2 separate regions of the Homo sapiens genome follow, and region 2 is linked to region 1. Evidence: fine-mapped expression QTL. Tissue or cell type: whole blood. Region 1 holds a variant in brackets; the other region holds the start of a gene. All regions are shown on one strand. Distances are from middle to middle.

The links. PIP is the estimated chance that this variant, and not a neighbour inherited with it, causes the effect.
Region 2: SREBF2 starts here. The variant in region 1 is fine-mapped to the expression of SREBF2 in whole blood (TOPMed, PIP above 0.99).

Annotation. Positions count from the first base shown.
Region 1 is chr22:41,888,307-41,896,563 of GRCh38, forward strand. It overlaps SREBF2 (sterol regulatory element binding transcription factor 2), which reads left to right. Exons shown (of 19, transcript NM_004599.4): 12 at 4,811-4,979; 13 at 6,514-6,631. Among named protein-coding and RNA genes, the nearest start is that of MIR33A, 8.5 kb to the right of the region's middle. The variant A/G (reference allele first, on the strand shown) is at 4,786.
Region 2 is chr22:41,828,437-41,836,436 of GRCh38, forward strand. It overlaps SREBF2 (sterol regulatory element binding transcription factor 2), which reads left to right and starts at 4,669. Exons shown (of 19, transcript NM_004599.4): 1 at 4,669-4,922. The coding sequence starts at 4,835. It overlaps CCDC134 (coiled-coil domain containing 134), which reads left to right. Exons shown (of 7, transcript NM_024821.5): 7 at 1-3,728. It overlaps SREBF2-AS1 (SREBF2 antisense RNA 1), which reads right to left and starts at 6,229. Exons shown (of 2, transcript NR_157279.2): 1 at 6,007-6,229; 2 at 1-5,544. RefSeq lists enhancers at 2,116-2,656, 2,657-3,196, 4,023-4,532, 4,138-4,794, 6,585-7,086 and 1 more and silencers at 4,573-4,912, 4,973-5,362.

The DNA of each region.
Region 1 (8,257 bases):
TTTATAAGAGTTGGAGGTAGGAGTGCAAGATCTGTTTTTCTCCATAAGGATATCTACCTGACGCAGAACCTGTTATTTTAAAAACTATCCTTCCCCTGCTGCACCAAGTGGCACCTTTTTTTCATAAATCAAGGATCCGTGTACCGTGGGTCTGCCTCCAGATCTAGTCTGTTCCACTGCACCATCACCACCCAACCCTAACGGCTGAGTTTTCTCTTACGTCTTGATGTCTGGAAGTGTTGGTCTTCCAGATTTAGTGACTAACGATGAATCTTGGGTGTTTCTTTGTAGCCTCTTCATTCTACAGAGGTACTTGATGCTGCTGATGGACATTTGGGTTGTTTCCAGTATTTGCCGTTATAAACAGTGCTTTAGGGAACATTTTTGTCCATTGTCTTCATGCACCTCCATAAGAGTTTCCTCAGACCAAATCTGTAGAGATGGTGATGCTGTGTCAAAGGATATAAATATTTGAAACTTAATAGTATTACCAAATTTGCATATTCAGTAAGATGGAAAAAGGAGAACTGTCATCTTTAAAGTAACTGCTCTTCTCTGTTTACTTCTCTTGAGAGAGGATAAAGAGACTCAGACAGTACTTTCTTATAAAGGAAGAAGCTTTGAATTTGGTGAGATATATTTAGCTACAAATGAGCCAGTTGTTGGGGGCAAGTGGAGGGCTGGCCTCTGTGAAAATGGTTTAGACTAGAGGTTCCCAAACTTGCTCAACTCATGACTCAAGATTCCCAAACATTCTCTACTCACTATGTCTCAGTAAATTTTTCATGGCATCCCTTAGCCAAAAGAAATACCTAACGGTTCTGGTTTTCGTTTTTTGAAACAGTGTCTTGCTCTGTTGCCCAGGCTGGAGTGCAGTGGTGCAATCACGGCACACTCTAGCCTCAACCTCTCTGGGCTCAAGTGATCATCCCACCTCACCCTCCCGAGTAGCTGGGACTGCAGGTATACACCACCACACCGAGCTTATTTTTGTATTTTTTGTAAAGTCAGGGTTTTGCTATGTTGCTCAGGCTGGTCTCGAACTCCTGGGCTTAAGCGATCTGCCCACCTCAGCCTCTCAAAGTGCTGGGATTATAGGCATGCACCACCGCGCCTGGCCTCTGTTAAGTAGTTAAGTTTGAACATCCTAATAGGTATTTAAATTGTCTTAACAGCTTAGTGGTCATTTGAAAAAATCATATGTCAAGTTGAAAGAAGAAATAATATTTTTTGCTAGGAGTGGTAGCACACACCTGTGGTCCCAGCTCCTCAGGAGACTGAGGTAGGAGAATCTCCTGAAACCACGAGTTTGAGGCTGCAGTTAGCTATGGTCACACCTGTGAATAGAGCCACTCCACTCCAGCCTGGACAACATAGTGAGACCATGTCTCTATTAAAAAAAAAAAAAAAGAGGTTGGGCACGGTGGCTCATACCTGTAATCCCAGCACTTAAGGAGGCTGAGGCGGGTGGATCACCTAAGGTCAGGAGTTTGAGACCAGCCTGGCCAACATGATGAAACTCCGTGTCTACTAAAAATACAAAAATTAGCCAGGGATCGTAGCACGCACCTGTAATCCCAGCTACTCGGAAGGCTGAGACAGAATCACTTGAACCCAGGAGTCAGAGGTTGCCGTGAGCCGAGATTGTGCCACTGCACTCTGGGTGACAGAGCAAGACTCTGTCTCAAAAGAAAGAAAGAGAGAGAATATTTTGGATTCTTAATAATTTCTTAGAAATCATGGTTATTAAGAATCCAAAATATTCTTTTATTTATTTATTTATTTTTTGAGATACAGCCTCACTCTGTTGCCCAGGCTGGAGTGGAATGGCTCTTCACAAGCATGGTGTCACTGTTTCTTACCAATACATGAACCTGTCAAGCACTGCACACCTCAAGCTTTGGAATCAGACTAGCAACCATCACTCTCTCTCTTTTCCACATTGATTTTCACACAGTACTATGACAGATATCACATCTCCAAAGGAAGCTAGTGTGGTCTCAATGCTGAGGCTGCATGCTCTCCCCATCTAGTCACTTACAGTGCCCAGCTGATGTTGAGCATCACTGTTTTCCTCGAAAGTTTAAAATAGCCAGTGGCTCCCTTGATCACTTGCTGTGGCACCTCAGACTGCCTTGGCACACGATTTGAGAGCCATGGGGTTAGACCGATGTTAGGGGACACAACCTGGGGTTGGGACTGGCCCAGGGATACTGAGTGGCTCTCAGGATCTAAACAGTTGTGGGGTTCTTGCCACAGCCTCTTTCACATCAGGCAATTAGCAGATGAGTTACAGGGGGAGGCTCCTAGGCCCCAGTTGGGGAAGATTCTGGTGTCTATAAAATTTAGGAAAACTTAAAAAAAAATTTTTTTTTTTTTGGCTTGGGATTACAAGCCAAGCCACCAGCGTGGCCAAGATGGTGAAACCCTGTCTCTACTAAAAATATAAAAATTAGCTGGGTGCGGTGGCGGGTGCCTATAATCCCAGCTACTTGGGAGGCTGAGGCAGGAGAATTGCTAGAACCCAGGAGGCGGAGGTTGCAGTGAGCCAAGATCACACCACTGCACTCCAGCCTGGGTGACAGAGCAAGACTCTGTCTTTAAAAAAAAAAAGAAAAGAAAAGAATTAAGCTTAAAATACATTTTTACTTAGTGATTTCCACATTTGCCTTTCTGGTTCCTCTTGCCGTATGACCTGGACTAGGCTTTGCTTCTACTTGTAACATTTGGGCCCTCGTGAGGGACCAGTTGGTCCTCAGTTTCTCCTGGAGCAGCCACCAGGCTCCCTTGCTGATTGGACATGTGGAATTGGCTGTTCTTGGAAAGAGAGTTGGAGTCAACCGTTCAAATGTTCTGGGACCTCCGAAGCCCAGGAATCACGCCACCACCCCCCAATCTCCCTCCCTGCTCAGCTCCTCAACTGCTATTCTCCCACCATTGCAGTTATCAGCTCAGATTCAGTGAGTGCTTTGTGGAAGGTTGGCAGAGGGTCGCGAGGGTCCTCTACATTTGTTCTCCAGTATCCAGTATCAACACTGGTTACCAAAGAGGAAGGACGGACTATTGGTGCCCCTGGTCCCAGTGATTAGAAATGTAAGTGAAACACCCCACCTCATCTCATAAGCTGCTTTGAGATTATGAGTATGTGTCTATAGAACAGGTTGTTTTCTCTCAGACTCAGGCAGTGTCTCCAGGTTCCCCCTGGAGAGAGATAGTCTTCTCTGTCTGTGTCCTCGAGTGGCACTCTGACAGTGCTATTTCTGACCCTGGCATTCAAGTCTTCTGAAGCCGTTACATTCGCTGATGGCTACTTAGAGCCCAGTAAAGGTCAGAACCATCAGACTGAACCAGACCATGAAACAGCGCTGCTCCTGTGGGGGCGAGGGCTGGGGTGTGGAAGCGATGTCTGCGGGCCTCGGCCTGGCAGCCCCGCCCCTGGGCTCCCTGGGCTTTCTATCTTATGCTTCTCCCTCCCTCCTGTCTTCTGTCCTCAGTTCCTCACTCACCCTGGCCTGTTTCGGGGAGTGGTTATGGGTTGGAAGTCATGGGTGTTAGTGTGAAAATACCCTCACTCAAAAAGTGACAGAACTGAAAACGTGGTAGATGGTATTGTCCCTGCAGTTCTTGTCAGTGGGGTCCTGGAATGATGTTATCCCGGCAAGTGGAGGAGGGGCCCAGTGACCGGGGCCCTGGCTCTTTGAATTGTCCCACAAAGAGGCTTTCCAGGTTCCCCCTCTGTTCTTTCTCGCAGGCTGGTGTTCACATCAGGGGCTCATGCAGGGGTGCCATGGGGTTTCTGTAGGGGGCCGCCCTTGCAGGGCCAGCTTTGTGGGGGGAGTCTCTCAACCACCTGCACACAGATACTTGCCTGTACAGGGCCTGGGCTGTCCTCCCAGCTGCCCCTTCACTCCAGTGCCATCTGATGTGACCCTGACGGCTGGCCATGTGCCGAGCACTGTTCTAAACTTTACACGCAAAGTAAAAGTAAAAGAAAAATTAGTCAAAGCAGAATAATTTTGCCTAAAATAGTCTAAAAGATATGTAATTAAAATGACATGATGGGCCAGGCACGGTGGCTCACGCCTGTAATCCCAGCACTTTGGGAGGCCGAGACGGGCGGATCACGAGGTCAAGAGATCGAGACCATCCTGGCTAACACGGTGAAACCCCGTCTCTACTAAAAATACAAAAATTAGCCGGGCATGGTGGCGCGCGCCTGTAGTCCCAGCTACACGGGAGGCTGAGGCAGGAGAATGGCGTGAACCCGGGAGGCAGAGCTTGCAGTGAGTCGAGATCGCGCCACTGCACTCCAGCCTGGGCGACAGAGCGAAACTCCGTCTCAAAAAAAAAAAAAAAAAAAAATGACATGATAAAAAGTCCCAGGATAGAAGGGGCTGCCTGGCTTGGCACTCTCGGGGCCGAGGGGAAAGTACAGCAGCCAGGGGGCCCCTGAGACCCCTCCTTGGGAAACCGCCTTCCTAGTTTACCCTGCAGGTTGAATGCCAGTAGGATCAGGCAGCCCCAGCAGGACAGGATGCAGCAGGGGCCCCACGCGTGCCTTGTGGCTGCTCCCTGCCCTCCTGCTGGGATGTGGACCTAGTCAGCAAGTCCAGCACACTCTACTGGTGGGCTTGCCCTAGTTTCCATGGTGGGCTTTACTTTCAGGTACCTGTGGGAGTCCTATCCCTGTGCTGATCTTTCCCAGTCTCCCCCAAAGCCCACCTCCACCATGGTGCTTTCTGCACCCCACAGTGGCTGCAGCCAGCATTCTGCCACCTTGGTGTT[A/G]CCCCTGGTCCTTGTCCTTCCACAGAGCTACTTCCTCAGCCGAGCCCAGAGCCTGTGTGGCCCCGAGCACAGTGCTGTTCCTGACTCCCTGCGCTGGCTCTGCCACCCCCTGGGCCAGAAGTTTTTCATGGAGCGGAGCTGGTCTGTGAAGTCAGCTGCCAAGGAGAGTCTATACTGTGCCCAGAGGAACCCAGGTGAGAATACCTTGGAGCCATTCAGAATTGGAGAAAGCCATGCAAACCGCCGGTACTACAGAGTCACTGCACCAGACACGCGGAGACACGGGTTGTCTCTTAATCTTGTTGAGTCCGTTTGTTTGTTTGTTTGTTTGTTTGTTTGAACCAAAGCTCAGGGAGGTTGAGTAACTTGCTTAAGGTCACAAGCCTGATCAGAAATTGTCAGTGGCTAAGCTGGGTGTGCAGCTCTGCTCTCTCTAACATTCAGAGCCCATGGTCCTTACATCACACAGCAATAAATTGTGATTAAGCTCCAAGGGTACTCTTAGCCCTTGTTTTGGGCACTTTGGAGACACAAAGGATGTGTGAGGCTTGCTTTCCCTGGCCTCCAGGTCTCTCCCATTGGGAGAGCAGACAGACATAAATGGAGAGTTTGGGAACAATAGGTGGCAGGCAGTCATCAACTGCTCAGAGTGGTGACAGGGACGAGGCTTCAGGCATTGGAAGGAGGTGCTGGCTTTCTGTCCCTGGCATTTGATAGTGATTGGAGTTGACTCGCCCGGCCTTGGAGCAGTAGAGGCTGGTCAGGATTGACTTAGACCTTGAGTGCTCAGTGGCTGTCTGCTTTCTGCTGTACTTTTCCTCCCCTCTCAGAATTGGAGTCTGTGGGGAGAGTAAGGTTCTACAGGTATAGGGGTGTGTGTCACACATTGGGGGAGTTCACTGTCCTTTTCTTTTTTAAATAATAACTGTATTGCTCAACGTGAGAATTGTGTGCAACACCAAAATATAAAGGATGAAAGCAAAAGCAATCCTAAATCTTTCTACCCCACCCCTGCTGGCTAAACATGGACTTCTCAGTGGCTTTGTCATCTCTGGCAGTCTCTGGCTCCAGGCCTTGTTACTTGGAATGTGTTCATAAGTGTCCCTCCTCCTGGTCATTAGATCGAGGCCCACATATCTGCCACATGTGAGGAGAGAGAAGGGGCTGGTGATTTGAGGCCTGCCAGTAAAGAAACTTGCTGGTGACAGTCAGCTATCCAAGCATTGCAAGGCCCCGTGTCTAGCCAGTTCAGACAGGTCACTGCTGATGGCACGTTCCATGACAAGGCTCTGGAAAAACCGGAGCATGTTCTTCGTTGTCATGAGCGTGGCAGCAGCTACCACCTTTTTTTCCTTGCCTGGTGGTTCTCCTTAGCCACATGGAGAAGAGAAATCCTCTGAGACATTCCATTTTCTGTTTTCTGATCCAACTCCACCTGACAGCTCCCAACCTTAGAGTACTGAGCACTGTGCCAGGAGACACAGCACCCTCCCCCACACCCCCTCCCCACCGGAGCTCATCCAGAACTAGTCTTGAGCTCTTCAGGCTGGGAGTGAACACTCTCCCCCATCCTCCAACTGTTTAGCACAGTAGTTCTGGGCTTTGGTGGAGAAGGGGCATCTGATCCCCATTCACAAGGCATGGCTGTGTTTGGAGTTTCTCTCCGTAAAGACAAAGTGGGCTCATAAATGAGCTCCATTTAACCCCCCTTGCCTGTCTCTTTTCCAGCTGACCCCATTGCGCAGGTCCACCAGGCCTTCTGCAAGAACCTGCTGGAGCGAGCTATAGAGTCCTTGGTGAAACCTCAGGCCAAGAAGAAGGCTGGAGACCAGGAAGAAGAGAGCTGGTAAAGTCCCCAGACCAGTCCCCCTGCCTTAGGACCTGTCCACGCAGGCAACTCCAGGACAGCCTGAAGGCCTGCACTCCTGGAGGGAAACAAGCCTGGCATCGGGTTGGCAGGGCAATCAAATGGTTCCTTTGTATTTAATTTCTCAAAAATGAGAGCCCTATGTTAACTCTGACCTGGCCTTTCCTCCTAGACCAAGTGCGTTTTTTTTTTTTTTTTGGAGACGGAGTCTCGCTCTGTCACTCAGGTTGGAGTGCAGTGGCGCAATCTTGGCACACTGCAAGCTCTGCCTCCTGGGTTCACGCCATTCTTCTGTGTCAGCCTCCTGAGTAGCTGGGACTACAGGCGCCTGCCACCATGCCCGGCTAATTTTTTGTATTTTTAGTAGAGACGAGGTTTCACCATGTTAGCCAGGATGGTCTCGACCTCGTGATCCGCCTGCCTCAGCCTCCCAAAGTGCTGGGATTACAGGCGTGAGCCACCATGCCCAGGCCTTTTTTTTTTTTTTTTTTTTTGAGATGGAGTTTCGCTCTTGTTGCCCAGGCTGGAGTGCAATGGACCAGTCTCAGCTCACTGCAACCTCTGCCTCCCGGGTTCAAGTGATTCTTCTGCCTTAGCCTCCCAAGTAGCTGGGATTACAGGCGCCCACCACCATGCCTGGCTAATTTTTGTACTTTTAGTAGAGATGAGGTTTCACCATGTCATTCAGGCTGGTCTTGAACTCCTGATCTCGGGCAATCCGCCTGCCTCGGCCTCCCAAAGTGCTGGGATTACAGGCATGAGCCACCACGCCTGGCAGGTGCACCCATTTTTATGTATCCCTTTACCAAGCGGAGTCAGTACTTGGACCAAGTCAGGGATTTCATTAGCTTGCTCTGCTTTTTGGGGTAGGGAGCAGGGGCCTGTTGAAAGGGGATGGGGGCTGGGTGCAGTGGCTCACGTCTGTAATCCCAGCACTTTGGGTGGGAGGCCAAGGTGGGCAGATCACGAGGTCAGGAGATCGAGACCATCCTGGCTAACACGGTGAAACCCCGTCTACTAAAAATACAAAAAATTAGCCAGGCGTGGTGGCGGGCGCCTGTGGTCCCAGCTATTCCGGAGGCTGAGGCAGGAGAATGGCATGAATCCGGGAGGCGGAGCTTGCAGTGAGCCAAGATTGCGCCACTGCACTCCAGCCTGGGTGACAGAGCTAGACTCTGTCTCAAAAAAAAAAAAAGAAAGGGGATGGGAATGAAATGTGACGAGCTCAGCAGAAGGCAGACACATCTGGCCTGGACATCTTGGGGACCCAGCCCCTCATGGAATGTGCCGGGCAATTTTTCTCTCTGACATACTTACTGAGCACAGTCCTTCTTTCACAGAGTAAGACCTGAGAGGCAGATAGGTGCCAAAGTCACTTTTGTTTTTTGTTATTTTTGTTTGTTTTTTGGGGGGTTTTTTGAGACAGTGTCTCACTCTGTCACCCAGGCTGGAATGTAGTGGTACAGTCTTGGCTCACTGCAACCTCTGCCTCCTGGGTTCAAGCGGTTCTCCTGCCTCAGCCTCCCAAGTAGCTGGAATTACAGGCACGCGCCACCATGCCCGACTCATTTTTGTATTTCTTGGTAGAGGCAGAGTTTCACCATT
Region 2 (8,000 bases), 60 kb before region 1:
TCATCTGCCCCTTCTGGCACCTCCTTCCTCCTGGGCTCTTTCCTCTAATACCGTCATCCTCTCTCCAACCTGGTTAATCCTGTCCTTTCTGCCCTCAAATGGGCACCTTCAAAGAAACAAATAGAACTACTCCACTCGCTCCCTCTCTCCCTCCCTTTACTGCCACTATTGATTGTTATAGTCACTTGCTCCAGGAAGTCCACTTGCTGAGTCTTACTGCAGACAGAGCCCACCCCCTGAGCTGTAAAGGCCCTAGGGCACATGTTTGTCCAGCTGCCTCTTGCAGCTGGGATTGTTAGGTCACTATAGCGCTACCAACTGCATATACCACTGTGGGAGTCGTGCTGGTGGCGGTAGTGGTCACAGGTACCAGGGGCAGCAGTGAAGGGGTGGCTCTAATGCCAAGTCCAGTGACCAGTGCCAGGGTGCCCAGTGGTGGCAACAGTGGTGTTTTCAGTGTGATCTTGGACATTGCTCCTGTCTACTCAGCTGCTAGTCTGTGAGCTCCCTGATATCCTTTAAGACAGCGTTTTCCAGCAGCGGCACTATTAACGTTTGGGGCTAGGTAATCGTTGGGTGTGTGAGTGTGAAGAGGGCTGTCCTGTGTGTTGTAGGCTATTTTAGCAGCATCCCGGCCTCTCCCTGCCAGGTGCCTGTAGCAGTCCCCCAGTTACGACAACCAAAAATGTGTCCAGACATTGCCAGATGTCCACTGGGAGGGAAAACCTCTCTGGTCCACAGCCCTTCTCCTTATTCCAGTCCCACATCTTCCTCCCCTTCCCCATCACTGTCCTCAGAGAGATGCTGTTGACAGCTCCTTGAGGTGATTCTCTCAGGCTTGTTGTTGTAGTTCTCTGCTGTCAAGTCTGAGCTGACTCTCTCTTCCGGATTCTTCTTTCCTCACCTGCCCCCGTTTGCATGAAGTTTTTTATGGAGCTGTTTCTATTTTCTTTTTGGGCAGCCATACTCTCTAAGACCTAAAAGCTGAATACTCGCCCGGTTACTACCTGATAATTCTCATCGCTTATGTTTCCAAAACCAAACTGGTTATTTCCCTCTCTAACCCCATCTCTGTGTCAAACAGTGGAGTACATGCTTTTGGTTAATCCAATTGGAAGGCTTCCTAGAGGAAGTAATATCTGAACTGAATCCTGAAAGATTAGGGGAAGAGGAAGAAAAGGACAGGTGCTGTGGGAAAAAGGGGAAAGTGTCAGAGGAAGTAAATGAAAAACCATATACAAAATTATCTTCTGTGACCCGTAGCACATGCCCAATCCATGGTAGATATCGAAACATAGTGGTTACCCAGTCTAATCCATCCCTTTTCTTTCTTTCTTTCTTTTTTTTCTTTTTTTTTGAGACAAGTCTCACTTTGTTGCCTGCCTGGAGTGCAGTGGTGCGATCTCGGCTCACTGCAACCCCCGCCTCCCGGGTTCAAGTGATTCTTCTGCCTCAGCCTCCTGAGTAGCTAGGACTACAGGTGCTTGCCACCATGACCAGCTAATTTTTGTATTTTCAGTAGAGATGGGTTTCACCATATTGGCCAGGATGGTCTCGATCTCTTGACTTCGTGATCTGCCTGCCTCGGCCTCCTAAAGTGCTGGGATTACAGGCGTAAGCAACCGTGCCCGGCTGTCCATCTCTTTTCAGATGAAGAGCTCAGGTTCTGAGGAGTGACTTGTCAAAAGCTGTTCTACCTCTCAGAGCCAGCCCTTGTCCTCCTGCTAGCCAGAGCAAGGTACCACCTGGAAGAGATGTTCAGTTACATGGGATCCAGGGCCAGAGGGAAAATATCAGTGCTTCCTGAGGTTCGGGTCCAGCCACCCTTCTTCCACCATTTCTACTGAGCCTTCAGTTGTACCCCTTCAGTCCACTTGGCGAGGCATCACGCCCTCTGGGCAGGCTCAGTGGGGAACTATGGGAGCAGGTGCTGTGTGCCACCTCTGGAGGGGGTCACTGAGGTTCTGGGTTGTGGGGGGTGCCCTGGGCCAGAGTGAGTTGTATGGGAGTTGTTGCTGAATCCCCCCAGAGTACCAGTCACACACCAGTGTGAGGGGCCTTGCAAGAGCCACTGGGCAGCACAGTTGAAGGTGGCACCTTCCTGCTCAGTGCTGTGTCCAGAGCAGGGTTTAGTTTTCTGTGTCTTTCAGGGTGAGACTGGTGTATTCTATACCAGCCTCCCTGTGTGTGAACAATGACGAGAACAATGTTGTCTTGCTTTCCCAAAAAATAAGACACTATCTATTTCTCATTAGTTATACACGTTCATTATAAAACGTAATTTAAGCAATACTGAAATGCCAAAAAGAAAGTAAAATTCACTCCAAAAGTAAAATTCACCCCAAATCTCACTACTCCTGTAACTATGTCTGACAGCCAGCTGTTGGGTCTTCCATCGTTTTTAACCTTCAGGTGAGCACACAGATCCTTATTTTTTCTTTTCTTTTCTTTTTTTTTTTTTTTTTTTTTTGAGACGCAGTCTCCTGTTGCCCAGGCTGGAGTGCAATGGCGCGATCTCTGCTCACCGTAACTTCTGCCTCCCGGGTTCAAGCAAGTCTCCTGCCTCAGCTTCCTGAGTAGCTGGGATTACAGGCATGCACCATCACGCCTGGCTAATTTTTGTATTTTTAGTAGAGACGGGGTTTCACCAAGCTGGCCAAGCTGGTCTCGAACTCCCGACCTCAGGCAATCCGCCCACCTCAGCCTCCCAAAGTGCTGGGATTACAGGCGTGAGCCACCTTGCCCGGACTCTCTTTGTATTTTTTCTTTCTTTTTTTTGAGACAGAGTCTTGCTCTGTCTCCCAGGCTGGAGTGCAGCGACATGATCTCAGCTCACTGCAGCCTCTATCTCCCAGGTTCCGGCAGTTCTCCTACCGGTTAGCTGGGATTACAGGCATGCGCCACCACACCCGGCTAATTTTTGTATTTTTAGTAGAGACGGGGTTTCACCATGTTGGTCAGGCTGGTCTCCAACTCCTGACCTCAAATGATCTGCACACCTCGGCCTCCTAAAGTGCTGGAATTACCGGTGTGAGCCACCGCGCCTGGCCAGATCCTTATTTTTTCAATTGCAATACAGCAGTATGCAAGGCACTTACTGTATGCCAAAGCTTATGCCGAGAGCTGGCTGCCAGCAGCTCCTCCTGCCTCGAGGCCTTTGTCCATGTCATCATTTCCCCTTTGGCTGTAACAGCTGCAGTTCTCTCATAATTTTAGGTTTCATCTTAAATGTCACTTCTTCAGAGGCTTCTTGACAGCACAAGTCAGGGCCCTTGTTAGTTTCATCACATCCATTACCTTTCCTTGATCACTTGTACCATCATCTGTAATTTATTTTTATGTTTAATACGGGTGTGGGATTTCTGATTTTTTTTTTTGCTAGACTGGAAGCTCTCAGAGGGCAGGAACCATTTGTTTCCCTGCCACAGAGATGTTCAATAAATATTGTCAATTGAATGTGCAAATAATCTCACTTAACCACAGCTATGAGGGATGCTATTTTATCCCCATTTTAGAGATGACTAAACTGAGGCTTAGAACAATTAACCCAAGGTCACAGTGAATTAGTGGATCCATGTGTCTGCCTCCACACAGCCTGTGTGTTCTTAATTATTGATCACTAAGCAACAGCTGCCTCTCACAAACTGGCAGGAAACTTCAACTTTTCCCTTTTATCAATATATTGTGAACGCCTTTTCTTGCTAATAAATATACATTTGTGTGCGTAATTTTTAATGATCCCATGGTATTCCATCGTGTGGATGTAATTTACATATTCATTTCCTTATTCTCACTTCTTCCTAGTTACAGCACTTCTTTAAGCACTTGTAATTTTTATTCCTTTGGATAAATTCCTAGAAGTTTACAACACGACCAGCTGCAAGATGGGGCAGTGAGGTGCTTGAAGGAGTGGGTGGGCTGCACTTCAGAATCCCGGTGGAACTTTTTCAAAAAACTCGTGCCCGGGGCCCCCCTCTCAGGAGGCCGTCGGTGGGCCTGGGCACTGGCGTGGTTTTCAGGTCCTCAGTGGTTCCGAGGTGCCAGAGATTGAGGACCACTGGAGTAAGCGCGAGGTCACGGCGGGTGCAAAGCAGAAGACGTAAAATCCTGACCGCCCTGGGACAATCTGCAACCTTGTCAAGCCTCCGTGCCCGCCTTTGTAAGGAGGCTGGGAGAAGCGGGACTTGGATGACCCGGACTCCCGTCCCGAGCGCTGGGGTCCAGGTTTGACTCCGCTGGCTTTCTCAGGCGGGCAGGGCGGGGGTAGGCAGCTGGGAAGATGACGTAATGTGCTCCCAGCCAGGCCTGGAGGCGGCCAGCGGTCGCAGGTGGAGGGTGGCCTGTTAACCCTTCACTCCCAGGCCAGTGGACGGACTTGCGTGTGGCGCAGATCCAACGGAGAAGGCAGCGGCTCCTTTAAACAAGGCGGAGAAGGTTAAGATGATGACCGGACGGCTACTCCAGGCATTCGCTCCGAGGCCGCGGGGGGAGGGACCTCACTATGCAAATCTGAGCTGCTGATCGATGACGCGCCATCACCCCACGCACCGCTTCGCTCGCCCATTGGCTGAGATGAGCCTGGTCCCATTGACAACAAACAGGGGGGCGCGCGGCCTGGAGGCGGGGCCGCAGGGGGCGCGGGCTGGGGCGGGGGAATCCCGCCCCGCCCTTTCTGTGCGGCGCCCGGGCGCAACGCAAACATGGCGGCGGGTGGCACCCGTCGGTGAGGCGGTGCCGGGCGGGGGTTGTCGGGTGTCATGGGCGGTGGCGACGGCACCGCCCCCGCGTCTCCCTGAGCGGGACGGCAGGGGGGGCTTCTGCGCTGAGCCGGGCGATGGACGACAGCGGCGAGCTGGGTGGTCTGGAGACCATGGAGACCCTCACGGAGCTGGGCGACGAGCTGACCCTGGGAGACATCGACGGTGAGTGGTGGGTGGGTGGGAGTGCGGGGGCCGCGCGGGGAGGAAGGGGTTACGGCGGCGCGCCCGGGTGCGCGTGCGCCCACCCCCCGACAGCCCCGGTTCGCGCGGGAAGAACCCCGTGCGCACGGTGCCCCCGGCGGTCCTCAACCCTTCCGGCGCTGCGAGCGTGAGCCCGACCCAGCTGCGCCGCTCCGGGAGGCCGTGGGATCTGGGGCGCCGCGGGGCCGAAAGCGGCGCGAGGGTCGCGGGTTCCAGAGCGCGGGGCTAGGGACGTCGCGGGGGCGTCTCAGGGAGCGGCCTAAGGAGAGCGCGTGGCCGCCGCCTCCCTCGCGCGCCCACACGCGGTTTCCGTGGTCCGCTCTCCCGCCGCCCGCGACCGCGCGTCGCACCTGTCACTCCCTTCCTGGCCGCGGGGACGTCTTTGGGATTCCCGGGGCCCAGCCCCCAGTCTCCGCGCCCCGAATCCCTGGGCTTCTCAGGATTGACCGACGGCCAGGTCGCCGGGTGCTCCGCGAAACTTTGGGCAGCGACTGCAGAAGCAAGTTGCTGATGAAGAGAGCAGTGGCGGCGGAGTGTGGACACATCTCTCCGGGATGGAGACCCGGGCGCTCCTGCTGTCACGCTGCAAGGGGAATTGAGCAGAAGAAATTTTGAGTTGTGGCCCCTCGGGTACGGGCTGGGGAGCGGGTGGCCTTTGTTCCAGCGCCTTAACAGCGGAGTGGAAGAGCTGGTAGGAGCCCAGGGATCCACTCTTAAAATACTAATTTTGCGACCACGGGAACAACGATTTGGAGAGGGTCAGCGGCTTGCTCAAGGTCACCCAGCTGGTTAGAGCCTAGTTCTTGCAGTTCCTTGGCCAGTATTGGTTTTTTTATACCCCTCCTTTCAAGAAAGAGTCCAGTTGACTAGGCTAGTAATCTTATTAACTGGATAGTTGCACTCTTATGTTTAGGCCCCAAAATGCTTTGTATTATTTCACTTCTTCCTCACAACAATCCTGTGAGATACTCTTATTACCTCTATTTTAATACGGTAATTAAAGAAGCCGAGGCCAGGAGATGTTGACTTATCTAAGGCCACTCACCTTAGAGAGCTTAGGCAGAAACACAGGTGCATTGTACTTTTCAGTTTTCAGAATGCTTTCATGTCCAGGATCTCACTACAGCCTTGCAGGCATGTATGATGGCTACATCCCCGTTGTGCAGATGAAGAAGCAGAAGCAGCAGAAGATTCTCTTTTGGGGGAAGAGATAAATGCAGCAGCTAATTGAAAAGGATCTGTTTGCCATTTTCCCATTTTGCTTTTGTAATATTTCTCCCCTTGGTTTGTCCTTGATTTCCATTTTGGTCATGTGGGCAGTGTGATAAGACCCTTAATTGAAGCCCCAGTTCTAACCACAGACTCTTTGCTAAGTGCTTCTAAATACAGAAATGGGTTAACAAATGGGGGATGGGGTAGGTGGGGGTTGGGAACATAGCAAGGGCAGCTAACATGTTTTGAGAACTTCTGTGCCAGACGGTGTTAAACAGTTATACACGTTAATGTTCTCAATCTTCCTAACAACCCTGTCAGGTAGAGAGAACTGTTATACTTGTCATCTCCCTCTCACTGATCCTGAAAGTGAGGCCCAGGGTGGTTCATTAATTTACTGAAGATTACACAGCCAGTAGAAAGTACTGTATGTCTATAGCTGCCTACCTGCAAGGGCACAGAAAGAAATTCATGTGCATTTTGCATTCCTATTCCATGATCAATTCCTATTTGTCTTATTTTGTTTATCTGATTTTTAAATTTAAATTTTTATTTATTTAGTTATTTTTTGAGACAGGGTCTCATTCTGTCACCCAGGCTGGAATGCAGTGGCACAATCATAGCACAAACTCTTAGGCTCAAATGATCCTCCTGCCTTGGCCTCCCAAAGTGCTAGGATTACAGGTGTGAGCCACCTAAATTTTTTTTTTTTTTTTTTGAGATGGAGTTTCGCTATTGTTGCCCAGGCTGGAGTGCAATGGCGCGATCTCGGCTCACCGCAACCTCCACCTCCCGAGTTCAGGCGATTCTCCTGTCTCAGCCTCCCGAGTAGCTGGGATTACAGGCATGCGCCACCACGCCCGGCTAATTTTGTATTTTTAGTAGAGACAGGGTTTCTCCATGTTGGTCGGGCTGGTCTCCAACTCCCAACCTCAGGTGATCCGCCCACCTTGGCCTCCTAAAGTGCTGAGATTACAGGCATGAGCCACTGTACCTGGCCGAGCCACCGTGCCTGGCCGAGCCACCTAATTTTTTTTAGAGACAGTGTCTGGCTGTTGCCCAGGCTGGAGTGCAGTGGCACAATCATAGCTCACTGCAGCCTTGAACTCTTGGGCTTAAGCAATCCTCCCAGCTCAGCTTCCCGAGTAGTTAGGACTAAGGCATGTGCCACCACACCTAGCTAATTTATATATATATGGTAGAGCCAGTCTCACTGTGTTGCCCAGGCTAGTCTTCAACTTCCAGGCACATGCAGTCCTCCTGTCTTGGCCTCCCAAAGTGCTGGGATTACTGGCATGAGCCACTGTACCCGACCCTGTCTTAATTTGTAATGAGTTTAAATTACCTAGTGGTTAATACTGTCTTTATCCCCACAGATTTCTGAATAAAATGGAAACTACCACCCTCTGGAAACTACCACAGTGGTTCAGTGGCTTCATAGGTCCATTAGGTTTGATCCCAGTGGAAGAAGATTCCATTTCTCTGTCCTTCCAGAAGACCTGGTTTATAACAGTGCATAAGGCTTTTTCTCAAAATAGTTATATACCGCACAAGGAAGAGGTGTGGCTGTTGTGTCACAGGAGACCTAGGGGCCAGGTTTGGGAAAAGTGGTTCCATGTCTTCAGTTGATCAACAAGTATTCAAGTGCTGGCTGTGGTTTCTGAGCTGTAAGGAATCGTGAAAGATAGCATAGAATTTTATGGCTTCATGGAGCTTGAGATGAGAAACTCTAGTGCCAGTATGGAACAGCTTAAAATTGCACAGCACAACAAGTAAAAGTCAGCAGTGAGGGTAGCTTGGTAAAGGCTGGCTTAGCAGGAAGACCAC